2 separate regions of the Homo sapiens genome follow, and region 2 is linked to region 1. The links come from fine-mapping of genetic effects on gene expression. Tissue or cell type: whole blood. Region 1 holds a variant in brackets; the other region holds the start of a gene. All regions are shown on one strand. Distances are between the middles of the regions.

Evidence for each region. PIP is the estimated chance that this variant, and not a neighbour inherited with it, causes the effect.
Region 2: it holds the start of CLPB, and the variant in region 1 is fine-mapped to the expression of CLPB in whole blood (TOPMed, PIP 0.97).

Annotation. Positions count from the first base shown.
Region 1 is chr11:72,293,385-72,301,484 of GRCh38, reverse strand. CLPB (ClpB family mitochondrial disaggregase) reads left to right here. Exons shown (of 16, transcript NM_001258392.3): 12 at 5,837-5,993; 13 at 6,792-6,865; 14 at 7,041-7,160; 15 at 7,359-7,463; 16 at 7,870-8,100. LOC124902708 (a long non-coding RNA gene) reads right to left here and starts at 1,522. Exons shown (of 3, transcript XR_007062766.1): 1 at 1,305-1,522; 2 at 1,024-1,119; 3 at 1-752. RefSeq lists an enhancer at 1-287. The variant G/A (reference allele first, on the strand shown) is at 3,430.
Region 2 is chr11:72,431,396-72,439,495 of GRCh38, reverse strand. It overlaps CLPB (ClpB family mitochondrial disaggregase), which reads left to right and starts at 4,965. Exons shown (of 16, transcript NM_001258392.3): 1 at 4,965-5,424. The coding sequence starts at 5,022. RefSeq lists a silencer at 2,553-2,602 and enhancers at 4,014-4,820, 4,884-5,343.

The sequences.
Region 1 (8,100 bases):
TTTGTGGCCTTGGCAAGTCACTGCCCATCTCTAGGCATCAGAGATCTCATGTGACAAACGAGGAGGCTGAATCAGAGAAGCCCCAAAAATCCTTCTGCCTCAGACAGCTCTTGTTCCTCCCTGTGTGCCAAACATTGTCTCCTGCAGTTCTTTAAAATGCTAATATTGTTGCTGCTAATGGTGAGATGCTGATACTCTGATTCATGGAGCCTTTCTCTTCTGAGAATCTGAGGGTTCTCACAGACTGTCCAGTTCCCCTGCTCGTAGGGGTAAGTTCTAAATGGAGAGAAGAGCTTACTTCTATCCAGTACCTTCTGTGTACTAGACCTGTACTAAAGACGTTACAGCCATTATCACTAATCCTCACAAGGTAGGTAGAAAAATTCCTAACAGGCAAGGGAGAAATTAGCTCATTTTTTACAGATGAAGAAACTGAGGTTCAGAGAGGTTATAAAAGACATGCCTAAGGCCACAGCTGCTGTGTAAAGAGCCAAGATTGGGCTGCAGATATGTCTGATCCCAGAGCCCCAATTCTCCCCCCATACCACTGTTTACCTTGAACCAGGCGAGGGATTGCTTACGATCACGGAAGAAGATGACTTCCACCTTTTCAGGGGCCCTGCTCCATCAAGAGAGCGTGAGGAGCCAAGGACTGAACCGGGGATGAGGCCTCTCTTCTCTCATGCAGGGGCTATATTAGCTAGCACCTGGCCATGAGTCCAGCTCACCTTTCTACCTAGTCTCCTGCAGCCCTAGGAAAACAAAAAGGTGGTTTGCTTCCCATGTCATAGGAGGCCACAGGGAGGGGACTCCTCCAGACCGAACAGCACATCAGGTACCAAGCCAGGAAGATCCAGATCCAGATCTCCTACCAGCTGCTCACTGCCTTCCCCACCTGGCCCAGCCTCCTTGCCCCTGCCCGTTCCGTTGTATCTTCCTAGCCCTTCAGCTGCTCCCTGCCCCTGAACCTCTGCTGAGGAAGAAGAGACCAGTCCTTCAGAGGTCACATACTCAGTTACTCACGTGTACACTGAGGCCTCTACTCCATTCCAGCCTCTTGATGGGATTCAAGTGCACAGCTATGACCAGACCCGAATGTGCCCTCTTGGAGCTCTCTGCCTGGTAGACAGGTGGAAAGGAGACATGGTAGTAGCTGGCATTTTGCATTTTGTGTGCCATTCGCTGTCTTCAGAGGCTTATGTGTATCAATTTAACCCTTTCAACAACCCTCCAAAGCTAGCTATTATTACGGCCTCCATTGAACAGATGTGGAAACTGAAGCAAAGTAAGATTAAGTCATTTACCTGTGGTCATGCAGCTGGGGAGAGAGAATCAAGGATTCAAACCCAGGCAGCCCAGTTCTAGATCCTGCAGCTTGAATGACTGCCACGCAGCTAGGGCCAAAAGAGCGAGGTCCGTCTCAGTGAAGCACGCAAGGGACGGGACCATGCCGCTGAGGGAGGGTGAGCATCGCGGCCTGTTTGATCTCTGGTCTCCCTGGAGAGGCACCTCTGATGGCATTCTTGGCCCAAAAAACAGAAGGCAACTGCTGACTGAAGTACAATCAGCCATACATGGAAGCCCTGTCTCCCCCTCCTCCGTCACTTCACTCCACTGACTGCCTTTTAGGGGTTGATAGGAATTCCTTCCTGCAGCTGTTGTCGCCCCTTCCCCCAGCCCCAGCCTACTATAGTTTCTGATGCTCTTGGTTCCATTGACCAAAGCTGCCATCCAGGTTTACTCGATTTAGGCTCTTTGAGGATGGGCCCTTGTCATGTTCACTTGAACCATTCCCAGAGCCCACAAAGTCAGGGGAAATGTTGTATTGACTAATTTAATTCAACAGTAGTTTTAATTCAACAGTAGTTAGCAAACCTTCAAAGGGTTAGTAAGTGCTAGGTGAACAGAGTGGCGGGGCTGGCAGTAGAAACCTAATGTATAAAAGTACAGGGCATGAAACAGGCTGGCATGCTCAGGGAACTGCAGCTGGTCAGTACTGCTCGATTGCAGAGGGAAAACAAGGACAGAGTGCTAGAGACAAGGTAGGTAAGGTAAACAGGGCCCAGTTAAAATGCCAGGCACAGAAGTTTGCATTTCTCTGGTAGAGAGTAAGGAGCCTTTTAAAGACTTTAAGCAAGAAAGAAACAGTCAAATTTTCACTTTACAAAGATGCCGTGGGCAGCTGTGTAAAGAATGGATGAGAAGGGAGAGGGTCATTAACAAGGAGACTGCTGGGGAGCCCAAGCTACAGCTGGGGAGGCCATGGGCTGGAGAAACTACTAGAAGGTTGACTGAGGAGAGGAGGAGGAGCCAAGGGTGGCCAGTTGGCTGCTGCCAGTTGGCCATCAGCTAAGGCGGCGAACACAGTGGGAAGCCGCAGATTGAAGAGGAAGGTGAGGCACTGAGGTGTGGAAATGTTGAAGGTGAGATACCTGAGGGACATCCAGATGGAGATGGCCAAGGGGCCGTTCATCAGTTTTATGGGTCAGGAGTTTAGGAAAGGTCTGACTGAAAATAGCAGTTCAGGAATCCTTCAGCCCAGAGAGGTTAACGGAAGCCACAGGAATGGATGAGGTCTGTAACCCAGGGAGTGTATAATGTGCAGAGAAAAGAGGGCTATACACAGAGCCTTGGGACCTATCAGGGAAGTCAAGACAGACTCGCCAGAGAAGTAGGAGGCAAAACCAGGCCAGGCATGATGGGTCACACCTGTAATCCCAGCACTTTGGAAGGCCGAGGTGGGCAGATCACTTGAATTCAGGGGTTCGAGACCAGCTTGGGCAACATGGCAAAACCTTGTCTCTACAAAAAATACAAAAATCAGCTGGGCATAGTGACATGTGCCTGTAGTCCTCACTACTCAGGAGGCTGAGGTGGGAGGATGGCTTGAGCCTCAGAGGCTGAGGTTGCAGTGAGCAGAGATTGCACCACTGCGCTCCAACCTGGGCAACAGAGCCAGACCCTGTCTCAAAAACAAAAAAGAGCCAACCAAAAGAATGTGGCTCATTCATTTATTCATGAGGCGCTGTGTGGGGTAGAGGGGACACTGACAAAACAGATGCAGCCCTGGCCTTGGCGTGACCAATGAGTGCGGAGACAGGCAGCTAAAAAGTAGTTCAGTCCACTGTGGTCGGTGCTGCGCTAGGGACAAGCAGCAAGTGCCAGGAGTTGTAGGGGCACCTAATCCAGGCTGGAGGTGTGAGGGAAGCAGCCTCACCCCTACCCAGTCTAGTTCTCCCAAGCCTGGGCCCAGAAAAGTAAGAACCCTATTGCTCTCATCAAAGCACCAAGCAGGTCTACTGCTGGCCACTCACAGGTGACCCCAGGGCAGAAGTCCCAGAAAGAGACTAGTCCCCAGAGAGCCCAGCCCCCACTCCTCCCACCAAGGAGTCATACGTGAGACAGTGGGAAAGCAGCCCCATAACCCTG[G/A]GGTGAGCATTCAAGCCCCACCCAAGATGTGCACGCTCTGGTTGTTAGAGGGAGGTGAGGCACGGACAGCTTCCTGTTTGAGACACATCTTTATTGCTAAGGAAACTGAGGAGGAGACATGAGCACTGAAAGTCACCCTTTGGGTCAGTCATGCACTGCACCTGCTCCCCTCACCCACCTGGGACCCATCCTCAGGCCCAGTTATGAGCAGAGCTTTGATCTCTGAGAATGAAATTGCTGCTAGGTTATTGCTCTGGCCAGTATAGCAGTGTGTGAACCCAGTCCTTAGGGATGAGCTCTGCAAAGTGAGTATGGAACACACACACAGTCATATGCACATGCTTGGACATGTCACACACACACACACACACACACACACACACACACACACACACACACACACACACACACACACACACCTGGTCCCCAAAACTAGAACTGCCCTCAGTGGATCTGTTAGATTAGAACCCATAAGCAGTGGGGTAAGAGTGAAAAGCTGCTGGTAAAAGCTCAAGGACATCTGCTTGCACCCTTGCTTCCCTTTTCCTGCCCCAAGGCAGGGACAGCAGAGTGACCAGCTCCAGGATGTGGATTACCAGGCCCCTTGTGTATAGACCCTTTGGGAATTAACAGTTTCTCAAAGGCCTCTGCCAAGGTCCAGTGGAAAGCAAGGCTGGAAACTACACCCAGCATGCAGTAAGCTAGCTCGGTTGATGCACAGTCCTTTCTCCTTTGCTCCTAAGGAGTAGGACTGGGTTTACCATTACACTGGCTTTAGAAGCAAGGGCTAACCCTGAAGCTCGGGCAGGGCCCAGCATCCCTGGCTCAGGCAGGAGCCAACAGGCTGAGGTCAGTGATGTATATCCCCAGAGCCACGGTTTCTGGCTTGGCGGGAGCTGTGCTTTCTCTGCTTCCCAAAAGAAATCTCAGGTAGATCTCCTCCCTAGCACCTGTCCCAGTTGCATCTCTCCAGTGAGGATCAAACTGAATTTGGCAGAATTCTGAGAAAATTCTGTCGAAGGAAAGAAAATAGCACGAGGCCTCATTCATCCAGCACCATTGGTCTGACCTCTGTAGCCTGGTGCAGAGGAAGGGCATGGGCTCTGAGGTCAGATAGTTCAAGTCTCGCCTCTACTGTATCCTAGCTGTGAAACCTCGAACAAGTTATGATCCTCTCTGAGCCTCAGTTTCTTTGTAGGGGTCCTAACTGCACCTACCTCCAAGGGTGGATGTGAAGATTCCAGCCTCCAGCAAGCAGGTGTCAAACACCTACTCTGTACCGGACGCTGTTCTGGGACACAGTGATGAACAAGACCCAGCCTCTGTTGTCAAGGAGCCACTTTCCTAGTAGAAGGAGTGGGGTTGTACACAAAAAGCACTAAGCAGAGCATCTGTGATGAAAGTAGAAGTCCCTGTCCGTGTTCGGCATTGTCACTCTATTGCTTGCTCTCAAGGAGTCCCTGATCATTGCTTTTGTTATAAATGACATAAAGTGCTGTTGTACGGTCATGCCCTTGAGGTTCGCTGAGTGAGCGGGGCTCTGTACCCTTCAACTGATTGGTCCCAGAACACTGTACTTTTATCATTCTTCTGTCTCTGCCCTATACTGTTTGCTCCTTTTCTCCTTCTTTGGTGCATCTTTCTCCAGTATAGATGCCTCCTTTGTCCCTTCTAGAAAGAGCTGAAGATTCCAAGGAAACTTCCCAAGGTGGTTAAAGAAGCAATCTCATTTTTTATCCCTGTTAGGCCAGGCGGCAGCTCCAAAGATAAAAGAGGTTGTCCTGTTTCATTATATATCACCTACTACAGTAATAATAGCTCTGAACATTTGAACAGCATGGTTTACTAAGAATTTTCACCAGATAACCACATCTAGTCCTGACAGTAGCCATGTAAAGTACCCTCCTCTGAATTCCTGCAGCATGCTGGGCTTCCCTTTATTATCATACGTAACATATTGGATGGTCAGTGCTTGTTTCCTGTATCTCACTGCTTCTCTATACTGGGAGCATGTTGTAGGCTCAGTGGGACCCCAGTACCCCACCACAGATCCTGGCCCACAGCGGGCCTCCAAAAAATGTGTTGGTTGCACAAATGAATGGCTAACTGTGACTGACTTCTGCATGCCAGGGATAGTTGGGTGCCCCAAGAGATGCCAGAGAGCAACTGCAGCCTCACCTGGAGGCACTCAGTAGGGAGAGCAGTTGCAGCGCAGGGCGGTGAGCACAGCAGCCAAGGTGCAAGTCTAGTGCTCGGAGAACCCAGAGGAGGAAGCAGCTGGCTGCTGGGGCTGGAGGGAGACACAGGGCTCTGGGGAGGCCTCCTGAAGGAGGTGAGAACTGAGAGTGCTAAGGCCTGCCCAGGCACATAGCTCCCTGACTGTACACTCCCTTCCTTCCCTTCCCAGGGCCGGCTGACAGATGGAAAAGGGAAGACCATTGATTGCAAGGACGCCATCTTCATCATGACCTCCAATGTGGCCAGCGACGAGATCGCACAGCACGCGCTGCAGCTGAGGCAGGAAGCTTTGGAGATGAGCCGTAACCGTATTGCCGAAAACCTGGGTATGGCGGCTGACCTGAGCAGTCTGGTCCAGTGACCAAGCCACCAGCCTATCTCCTGGGGAAGGATGGGATTGGGGCCCTGGGCCCAGGTGAAGGTTCTAGTGGGCAGCTCTGTCCCTAGCTGACACTGAGCAGATATCAGACACCATACCAAGTAGTGGGGGTTGAGACAAAAGAGACAGAGACCCCACTTCAAGAAAGCCTCAAGTCTGTTGGGTGATAAGAGGGCTCCAGGCAGGAATGGACAGAGCTACACCAGGGTGGGGGGCCAGAAGCTGCTCAGTGTCTTAGGGGACTGAGGAGATGCACATGCAAGAGACACAGATGCTTTGGTGCAAGAAGGGGACAGCAGATCGAAAACTCTATGGCAGTGGACACAGCCTTGTTCACCCAGGGCAGCTTCCTGCGTAGGTGGGCCATGGAGAGTGCTGAAAAAAAGGAGCACATCCGGCAGGAAGCTGTGTCTGTCACCTTTTCCATTCAAGATCGAGCCCTGCAGCCCCCTTCCTCCAAGTCAGGACTCAAGTCTTAATCCTGACGTTTCCTCTCCTCTCCCTCCCTCACACAACTCCCACCCTGAGGAATCGCAGACTTCATACACTTGAGAGCTGGAAAGGCCTCCGAAAGTGCCTGGTCAGAGGAGGAGACCAGGCTGAAGCCCAGAGAGCCTTAGACCTTGACCAGGACCACACAGATGGACAGGACCAGGGCTCTTTCCATGGGCAGGCCAAGGGGCAGGCACAGCCCCCAAAGTTCCCTGAATGTGGGGAATAAGCAGTTTATGATTCTTCTCCACAGGGGATGTCCAGATAAGTGACAAGATCACCATCTCAAAGAACTTCAAGGAGAATGTGATTCGCCCTATCCTGAAAGTAAGAGGTCTTTCTTGGCACTTCCTGCTGGAGCCTAAGGTTGGGGGAGGGTGATCTTAGCCATCCTAAAGATCTGGAAGCCCCATAATTTCCCCAGTCTTCCCCTGGTGTCTGGTAATTTCCCTAACCCGCTCTGGGTCACTGAGCTCATCCCACCCCTAACCTGGCCCTTCAGGCTCACTTCCGGAGGGATGAGTTTCTGGGACGGATCAATGAGATCGTCTACTTCCTCCCCTTCTGCCACTCGGAGCTCATCCAACTCGTCAACAAGGAACTAAACTTCTGGGCCAAGAGAGTAAGAGGGAACTGCCCATGGGTGGGGGCGGGATAGCCAGCCACTGGAAATCTGGAACACTGGACTGGGGGCACCCCCACACACATAAAAGGTGGAGCACAGTGGTGTGGGGCCAGTGGCCCTGGCCTCAGGCCAGAGTGGCAAGAGATGGAAAGCAGTGGGCCACATGCAGGCATGCTTCTATCTGACCCATCTCAGGCCAAGCAAAGGCACAACATCACGCTGCTCTGGGACCGCGAGGTGGCAGATGTGCTGGTCGACGGCTACAATGTGCACTATGGCGCCCGCTCCATCAAACATGAGGTGAGCACAGGAGCCTGAGAAATGAGGCGCCTCCACACCTCCCTCCCCAGGGCCCCCCAGACCCAGTCCCTGAGCTCTCAGCCTGCCTCCCTATAGCTTGGTTGCTGGATATTCACACCCAGAGTGGATGCCCATTCAGAACCATAAACACATGATCACCAAGTAAAACCCCTGCTGGAGGGTAGCCCAGTATGAACCCCACTAGGACCAGGGAACTGGGCTGGGAGCCTCAGAAACTTGAGCGCAGTCCTGCGAGCTAGCTGTTATTAGCCCCAATTGGCAAATGAGAAAGCTGAGGCTCAGGCTCAAAGGAGGTCTCTGAGTTGCCCTAGCAGTAAGTGATGGAGGCCGACCTCCAAGCTGGGTCCAGGCCGAGGGAGTGACCACTTCACCTCCCCACCGACAGGTAGAACGCCGTGTGGTGAACCAGCTGGCAGCAGCCTATGAGCAGGACCTGCTGCCAGGGGGCTGTACTTTGCGCATCACGGTGGAGGACTCAGACAAGCAGCTACTCAAAAGCCCAGAACTGCCCTCACCCCAGGCTGAGAAGCGCCTCCCCAAGCTGCGTCTGGAGATCATCGACAAGGACAGCAAGACTCGCAGACTGGACATCCGGGCACCACTGCACCCTGAGAAG
Region 2 (8,100 bases), 140 kb before region 1:
CCCTCCCAGAGGCTAGGTAATATATGTAATACACGAACCCATACATACTTACATATTTATATTTCTGTATTGATCTGTCTGTATCTATTTTTAAAAACCATGAGTTTTACAGCTGGGCATGGTGGCTCTAACCTGTAATCCTAGCACTTTGGGAGGCTGAGACAGGCAGATCATTTGAGGTCAGGAGTTTGTGACCAGCCTGGCCAACGTGGCAAAACCATATGGTCAATAACCAATTGAGACCAATCAGGCTGGTTCGAGACCAGTCTGGCCAACATGGCGAAACCCTGTCTCTACTAAAAATACAAAAGTTAGCTGGGCGGTGGTACATTGCTGTAATCCCAGCTACTCAGGAGGCTGAGGCAGGAGAATCACTTGAACCTGGGAGACGGAGGCTGCAGTGACCAAGATCGCGCCACTGCATTCCAGCCTGGATGACAGAGCAAGACTCCGTCTCAAAAATAAATAAAGTAAAAATAAAATTAAAGCCATGAGTTTATGCTGATACATCTGATTCCAATTCAATACCACAAGGTTCATTTTAGCTTTCTTTTTTTCCCTATTTATAACTTCTTTCTCCAACAGTGAAAAGCCCAGCTACTATCTATTTACTTATTTGTTTAAAAATGTGTGTGTGTGTTGTTGTTTTGTTTTCTTTTTCTGGAAAAGTTTTTCTCAGAAACCTATAGAATGTGTAGCACCAAATGGCCTCCAACTCCATGCCAGAGGCAGCTGACCACAGCAACTGCATTGATTCTTCACTTTCTGTCTCCTCCTAAACCCCATTCAGATATCCCCCAGTCACCTTCCTACAAACTAAAACTGGAGTTCTCTCTCTCCCAACCCAACAGTTAGAAGCTTAGGGCCAAGGTGGGGTCATTGGAACCTGATATAAATTTTTGCTTTCTGAGCAGACCAAAAGGAAGCCATCCTGCGTTGAAAATCTGTTAAAATGTGACCTAAGAGTTTTTTGTGTGTTTGTTTGTTTTTTGAGACGGAGTCGCCCCGTCGCCCAGGCTGGAGTGCAATGGCGCGATCTTGGCTCACTGCAACCTCCGCCTCCTGGGTTCAAGTAATTCTCCTGCCTCAGCCTCCTGAGTAGCTGGGATTACAGGCGTGTGCCACCACGCCCAGCTAATTTTTTGGATCTTTAGTAGAGACGGGGTTTCACCATGTTAGCCAGGCTGGTCTCGAACTCCTGACCTCAAATGATCCTTCCAACTCGGCCTCCCAAAGTGCTGGGATTATAGGCATTAGCCACTGTGCCTGGCCCTGGATTGGTTATTGACCATACAGAATTCACTCTGAGTCCCAGCTGATTCTAATGGGTGGGGTTTTTTTGTTTGTTTTAATTTTAGTTTATTTTTCTTTTTTTTGGAGACAGGGTCTCACTCTGTTGCCTAGACTGAAGTGCAGTAGTGTGGGGATCCTCCTGCCACAGCCTCCTGAGTAGCTAGAACTACAGGTGTACACCCCCATGCCTGGCTAATTTTTTATTTTTTGCAGAGACTGTGATCTCACCATGTTGCCCAGGCTGGTCTCAAACTCCTGCCCCAAGTGTTGGGATTACAGGCACGTGAGCAAGCACACACGACCCTAATGGGTGTTTCCATACTTCCTCACTACATCCCCCACTCAGAGATTGATAATTTAAGCTTTTCAGTATCCCTACCAAATACTGATAGTAATTAAACCCTTCCTTGAACCCCTCGCAGATGGTATCTGTGAAAATAAAATAAGAAAATCAATGGGGAAGTGCTTTGAAAATTATGCATTGCTAAGTAAACTGAAGGGCCCTGGGATGTGTCTGCAGTGAGAGGGTTTGAACTCTGCATCTGGTAATGGGAGCTTTCGGAGACTGCTCTTCCTGCTGTGACCACCCTAAGTTGGGAGACAGAAATGTTTCAAGAATACAGGGAAGGTGAAGTTGCTATAGTGAATGGGGTGGTTAACAAAATAATATGTGCTGAAAATCTCTCAAAACAGAAAGGTCAAAATGCTTTCATTATTGAGTGCTTTAAAAATGATTTAAAAATAGTTATTCAAGGCTGGGCACGGTGGCTCACGCCTGTAATCCCAGCACTCTGGGAGGCCAAGGCAGGTGGATCATCTGAGGTTGGGAGTTTGAGACCAGCCTGACCAACATGTAAAACCCCGTCTCTACTAAAAATACAAAAAAAATTAGCCAGGTGTGGTGACACATGCCTGTAATCCTAGCTACTCGGGAGGCTGAGGCAAGAAAAGCGCTTGAACCTGGGAGGCGGAGGTTGCGGTGAGTCAAGATCGCGCCATTGCACTCCAGCCTGGGCAACAAGAGCAAAACTCCATCTCAAAAAAAAAAAAAAGTTATTAAAGCCAGGCGCAGTGGCTCACGCCTGTAATCCCAGCACTTTAGGAGGCTGAGGCAGGAGGACTGCTTGAGCCCAGGAGTTCAGACCAGCTTGGGCATCATAGCGAGACCTAGTCTCTACCCAAATAATAATAATAATAATAATAACAAAAAATTAGCTAGGTGTAGTGGTGCCAGCTGTGGTCCCAGCTACTCAGGAGGCTGAGGTGGTGGGATGATCCCTTGAGCCCAGGAGGTTTCAGGTTGCAGTAACAACTGTACTCCAGCCTGTGTAACAGAGCGTGACCCTGTCTCAAAAAAAACCAAAAAAGTCGCTCATTCATTCCTGTCTTACTAACGGATGTGGAAATGAGAAGTTCCATCTTTGCCTGGAGGAAGTGTAGAATACACAGAGCAGAGAATATACAATGATAGCTACCATTTCTTGAAGACCTACTGTGAGCCAGGGACAGTGTTAGGGGCTTTCTACATATTATCTTATTTAATACAAGCAATCATCTTGAAGGCAGGAATTGATATCTTCAACAATGAGTAATTAACTACCAGAGAGGTAAAGGGAGTTTGTCCAAGGTCACCCATATAAATGCAAGAGTCAAAATTAAAATCCACGTCTGCCTGAATGCCAAAGCTCAAGTACTCTCCAACACTAATAAGGTGAGAGTAATCCATTCACTGAAAAAAATATTTGAGTGCCTCAGGCCGGGCGCGGTGGCTCACACCTGTAATCCCAGCACTTTAGGAGGCCGAGGCAGGTGGATCACGAGGTCAGGAGATCGAGACCATCCTGACTAATACAGTGAAACCCCGTCTCTACTAAAAATACAAAAAAATTAGCCGAGCATGGTGGCGGGAGCCTGTAGTCCCAGCTACTCGGGAGGCTGAGGCAGAAGAATGGCGTGAACACAGGAGGCTGAGCTTGCAGTGAGCTGAGATCGTGCCACTGCACTGCAGCCTGGGCGACAGAGCAAGACTCTGCTTCAATAAATAAATAAATACATAAAAATAAAAAAACTGAGTGCCTCTTTTGTTCCAGACATTGTTCTGAGTGCTAGTGATATAAAAGTGAAAAAACAAAGTCCTTGTCTCATGGGGCTCATGCTGTAGTGGAGAAAGACAATAAAAATGTAGTATGTCAGATGGTGATAAATGCTGTGAAGGAAAATTAGGATGGGGTGCGTAGGATTACTATTTTAACCAGAATGGTCAGGGAAGACTCTGATCATGTGAAGTCTGAGCAGACGTACAAGACTTGGAAGAAACAGAACTGGCACAAAGAAGAACTTCCTCCTTTGCCTACCTATGGGTTCAGTTTGGAAAAGAGGGGGCGGGATGGGAGTGCAGGTGTTAATGGAAACTATATGCTCAAAATCAGAAGACCTGAGCATTACTTTACTCCAGGTGATTTACTGGCAAATCTTTTCACCTTTGAGCCTCAATTCCCTTCACTGTAGACGGGAATAACAGTTCTTGCCCAGCTTCTCACACACAGCTGCCATGAGGATCAGATGAGATGACCCACTTGAAAGCCCTTTAAAAATAACACAATCAGGGCCAGGCGCAGTGGCTCACGCCAGTAATCCCAGTACTTAGGGAGGCTGAGGCAGGTGGGTCGCTTGAGGTCAGGAGTTGGAGACCAGCCTGGCCAACATGGTGAAACCCCGTCTCTACTACTAAAAATACAAAAATTAGCCAAGCGTGGTGGTGCGTGCCTGTAATCCCAGCTACTCGGTAGGCTGAGGTGGGAGAATCGCTTGGACCAGGGAGACGGAGGTTGCAGTGAGCCGAGATGGCGCCACTGCACTCCAGTTTGGGCGGCAGAGTGAGATTCTGTCTCAAAAAAAAAAAAAAAAAAAAGACCGGAAGTCAACTCTTCAAATAAAATGTATTCCTATCTCAGGTGCAGTAGTTACCCTAAACATCTTTTTGAAAGGCCGCCCAGGCTGAAAAAAGAGATAGGCTAAACTAAATAAGCATAAGTTTCATAATATGCCTCTGCTGAAGATTCTTGGGTAATTTACACCAGTCAAAAATTGTGGGCCGGGCGCGGTGGCTCACGCTTGTAACCCCAGCATTTTGGGAGGCCGAGGCGGGCGGATCGCCTGAGGTCAGGAGTTAGAGACCAGCCTGGCCAACGTGGTGAAACCCCGTTTCCACTAAAAATACAAAAATTAGCTGGGCATGGTGGCGGGCGCCTGTAATCCCAGCTACTCGGGAGACTGAGGTAGGAGAATTGCTTGAACACAGGAGACGAAGGTTGCAGTGAGCCGAGATCGCGCCACGGCACTCCGGCCTGTGAGACAGAGCGAGACTCCGTCTCAAAAAAAAAAAAAAAAAAAAAGTGTGTCGTGTGCTTCAACTAAACTAGGAAAGAAGTCTTGGGATTCTAATCTTTAACTCTAATCGCCACGCCCCTTCACCCGAACTCTATTTCCCAATATGCCCCGGGCTTCTATAATCCCGCAGTCATTGTGACGCAATCCCACAGCCTTCTGGGAAACGTAGTTTATTTATTCTCCAGCTGGGGAAAGGCTTAGGGCTGTGGACTACCTCTCCCGTGAGGTAGTGCGCAACTCCACCCTGTTCGCGGCGTCTTCGAACGCGCCGCGGCAGCCATGTTGGACGTGGTCAGCACAGGGGCCGGCACCACGGGGTTATCGAAGCAGCTGTCAAGATGCTGGGGTCCCTGGTGTTGAGGAGAAAAGCACTGGCGCCACGGCTACTCCTCCGGCTGCTCAGGTCCCCAACGCTCCGGGGCCATGGAGGTGCTTCCGGCCGGAATGTGACTACTGGGAGTCTCGGGGAGCCGCAGTGGCTGAGGGTAGCCACCGGGGGGCGCCCTGGAACATCGCCGGCCTTGTTCTCCGGACGTGGGGCAGCCACCGGGGGGCGCCAGGGAGGACGCTTCGATACCAAATGCCTCGCGGCTGCCACTTGGGGACGCCTTCCTGGTCCCGAAGAAACACTCCCAGGACAGGACAGCTGGAACGGGGTCCCCAGCAGGGCCGGACTGGGCATGTGCGCCCTGGCCGCAGCGCTGGTGGTTCATTGCTACAGCAAGAGTCCGTCCAACAAGGGTGATTATGAGATCTGGGTTTGAGGAAGGGAGAGGCGGGAAGATTGTCCTAACTTCGTATCTTAGGAGGGTGGGAGGTACTTATAGGTTTAGATCCTTAGAGCCTAAGTCTTGGAGGGACTCAGACATCATCTGGTTACAGGGGCAGGGTGTTGCCCTAGAGACCTCATCACCTCGGAGTTGTATAATCTCGTACCATAGATCCGCTTCCCCTCTCTGGGCATCATTTTATCCATCTGTACAATGGGGATATTGGACTAAACATCTAATATTATAGCATGGTCCCCTTATGTTTCTCATATTCTGCCTGGTCCAATTCCTCTTTCCTGAGATCTCCAGGAAACGGAAATTATGGGGTGTTTTAAGGGCAACCGCCAGATGGTTTAGAGAAGTTGCCAAACCGCTCCCCCCTACCCCCCGCCACCAAAGGTGCCAGAGTCAGGAACAACCTGACTCGGTTCTAATGCCAGCTTGACCTCAATTTATTTATTTATTTATTTATTTATTTATTTATTTATTTATTTATTTATTTCTGAGATGGAGTCTTGCTCTGTCGCCAAGCTGGAGTGCAGTGGCGCAATCTCGGCCCACTGCAACCTCCGCCTCCCGGGTTCAAGCTATTCTCCTGCCTTAGCCTCCCAAGTAGCTGGGACTACAGGTGCGGGCCACCACACCCAGCTAATTTTTGTATTTTTAGTTGTTGGTCAGGATGGTCTCGATCTCTTGACCTCCTGATCCACCCGCCTTGGCCTCCCAAAGTACTGGGATTACAGGCGTGAGCCACCGCGTCTGACCAATTTCTTTATTTATATAGTGAAGGATAGTTTCCCAACATTTTTACAGTACTGTTATTTTGACTCTTTTTGGAGTTCAGCGGCCTGAGTCTGTCAGTCTCAGGATTTTGCTGTGTCTGGTCTCACATGCTGTGAGGTGATCTTGCCATGTGGGATAGTTGGCAGGAGAAGGAAGGTGGATTCCTGGAGGCCCAAGGGCAACTGCTGGGGGACTGGCTGATCCCGATTAGCATCTCATTTGGATCCGGGGAGCTAAGCAGCAGCTGAGAGAGTGGACAGAGAGCCAGACTGATGACCTATGTGAGTCCAGCCATTCAGGTTCTTAGTTGTTCCTCAAGAAGAAAGACTGAGGCATGGTGTCCATAGATTCCATGCACCCCAAGCTCTGAGAATTTGGAGCAAGAGTTGGGGAGTAGGGAGTGCCTTGACTTTGATTCGTTTGATGTGGCCAATTGTAAAGGAAGGACTTTGGTCTGGGAGAGACAACACTGGGGATCTTGTTTTGGTTCTGTGTCTAACTCTCATTGTGAATTTGGACTTTTGCTTCTCCTCACGGGTCCTCTGTTTCCTCATCTACAAAATGAGGGTTTTGAAATAGACACTAAGGGCATCGAGCTTAGGCATGTTGTAATCCTATAACTTCCAGCATTTTTGGGGGTACCCACTGTGTGTCTAGTTTTAGGCTAGGTGTGTGGGAAGTCCTAACTTAACACAAAATCAGTCAAGGGGACAGTGCAGGCAGTTGGAATGTAGGGCTGGTGAGTGGTGCTATGTGTCGTTGGGGGATCAGAGGGCCAGTAGGGTCAGGAAAGCCTTTCTGGAGTATTGGAGACCCCAGAGGATGGGAAATTTGAACTTGAGTTCTGAAGGATGAAGTAGAAACGGAAAGGGGAGTGATCTTTTGAGCCCCATGAGAGCAGGAAATGTATCTTCTCTTTTGTTTTTTCAGGTTATACTAGCAACTTTCCCGAATACCTAGACATCATTTGCCCACCACAGTGTCTGGAACTTAGTAGGTGCTCAGTAAATGTGTGAGAGTTGGATTATATTCCATGCAAAGGCTTCAGGGAATGGAAATAACAGTTTCGGGGCACCATGGTGTGTGCAGGGGCCAGCAGAGCAGCCAGCTTGGTTGGAGGATAAGGTCTTTGGAATTAGATGAGAGCAGATGGAGTGGGGCCTGGATGCCAGTCAGGGGTGGGGTAGGTGAGGGTGTTGGAATTTCTTCTGTAGGCAGTGGAGAGTTATGGAAGGTTCATGAGCAGGGAATGTTCTGAGTCCAGTGTATTTGGTGAGGTCTTGCCTAAGAAGTTCCTGGGGGTTCCCAACTGGACTTTATGGCCTATGAACTCCAGCAAGAATACCAGGGTCTATTTACCAAAATAGATAATGGTCAAAGCCGTGACCAGTTCCTGCTGGAACTGACTTGCCAGCTACCCTGTCCCCTGACTTAGAGTTTTGACCCTCAGTGCAGTGTGGTAGAAACTGAACCCTTTTAGAAGCCAGGAGGCCCTGGTTCTTAGCTCATTCCTCACTCTGTAACCTTGTAGAAGCCACATTTTTTTCTGCAGAGTGAAGGGAGAGTGGATATAGCCATCTCTAAGGAAGGCTTGATCCCCTCCCAGCTGGTGGCTGTCTGAGCCATGCTTGGGTATGTGCTTTAGGTACATCCGGTAAGGTAAGTAGAAAGGACCTGTCCCTGGAATCTAGGCCAGGAGGCATCAATGTCTGAACCACAGGACTGGCTTTCATATGCATGATAAGGTGTATTGTACAGATAAGGAAACTAAGGCTCAGGAGGTTAGATAGGTGGGCTAGGTTATACAGCAAATAAGCGACAGAGCTGGGCTAGACCCCAGGTCTGACTGTCTCCAGATCCTGCT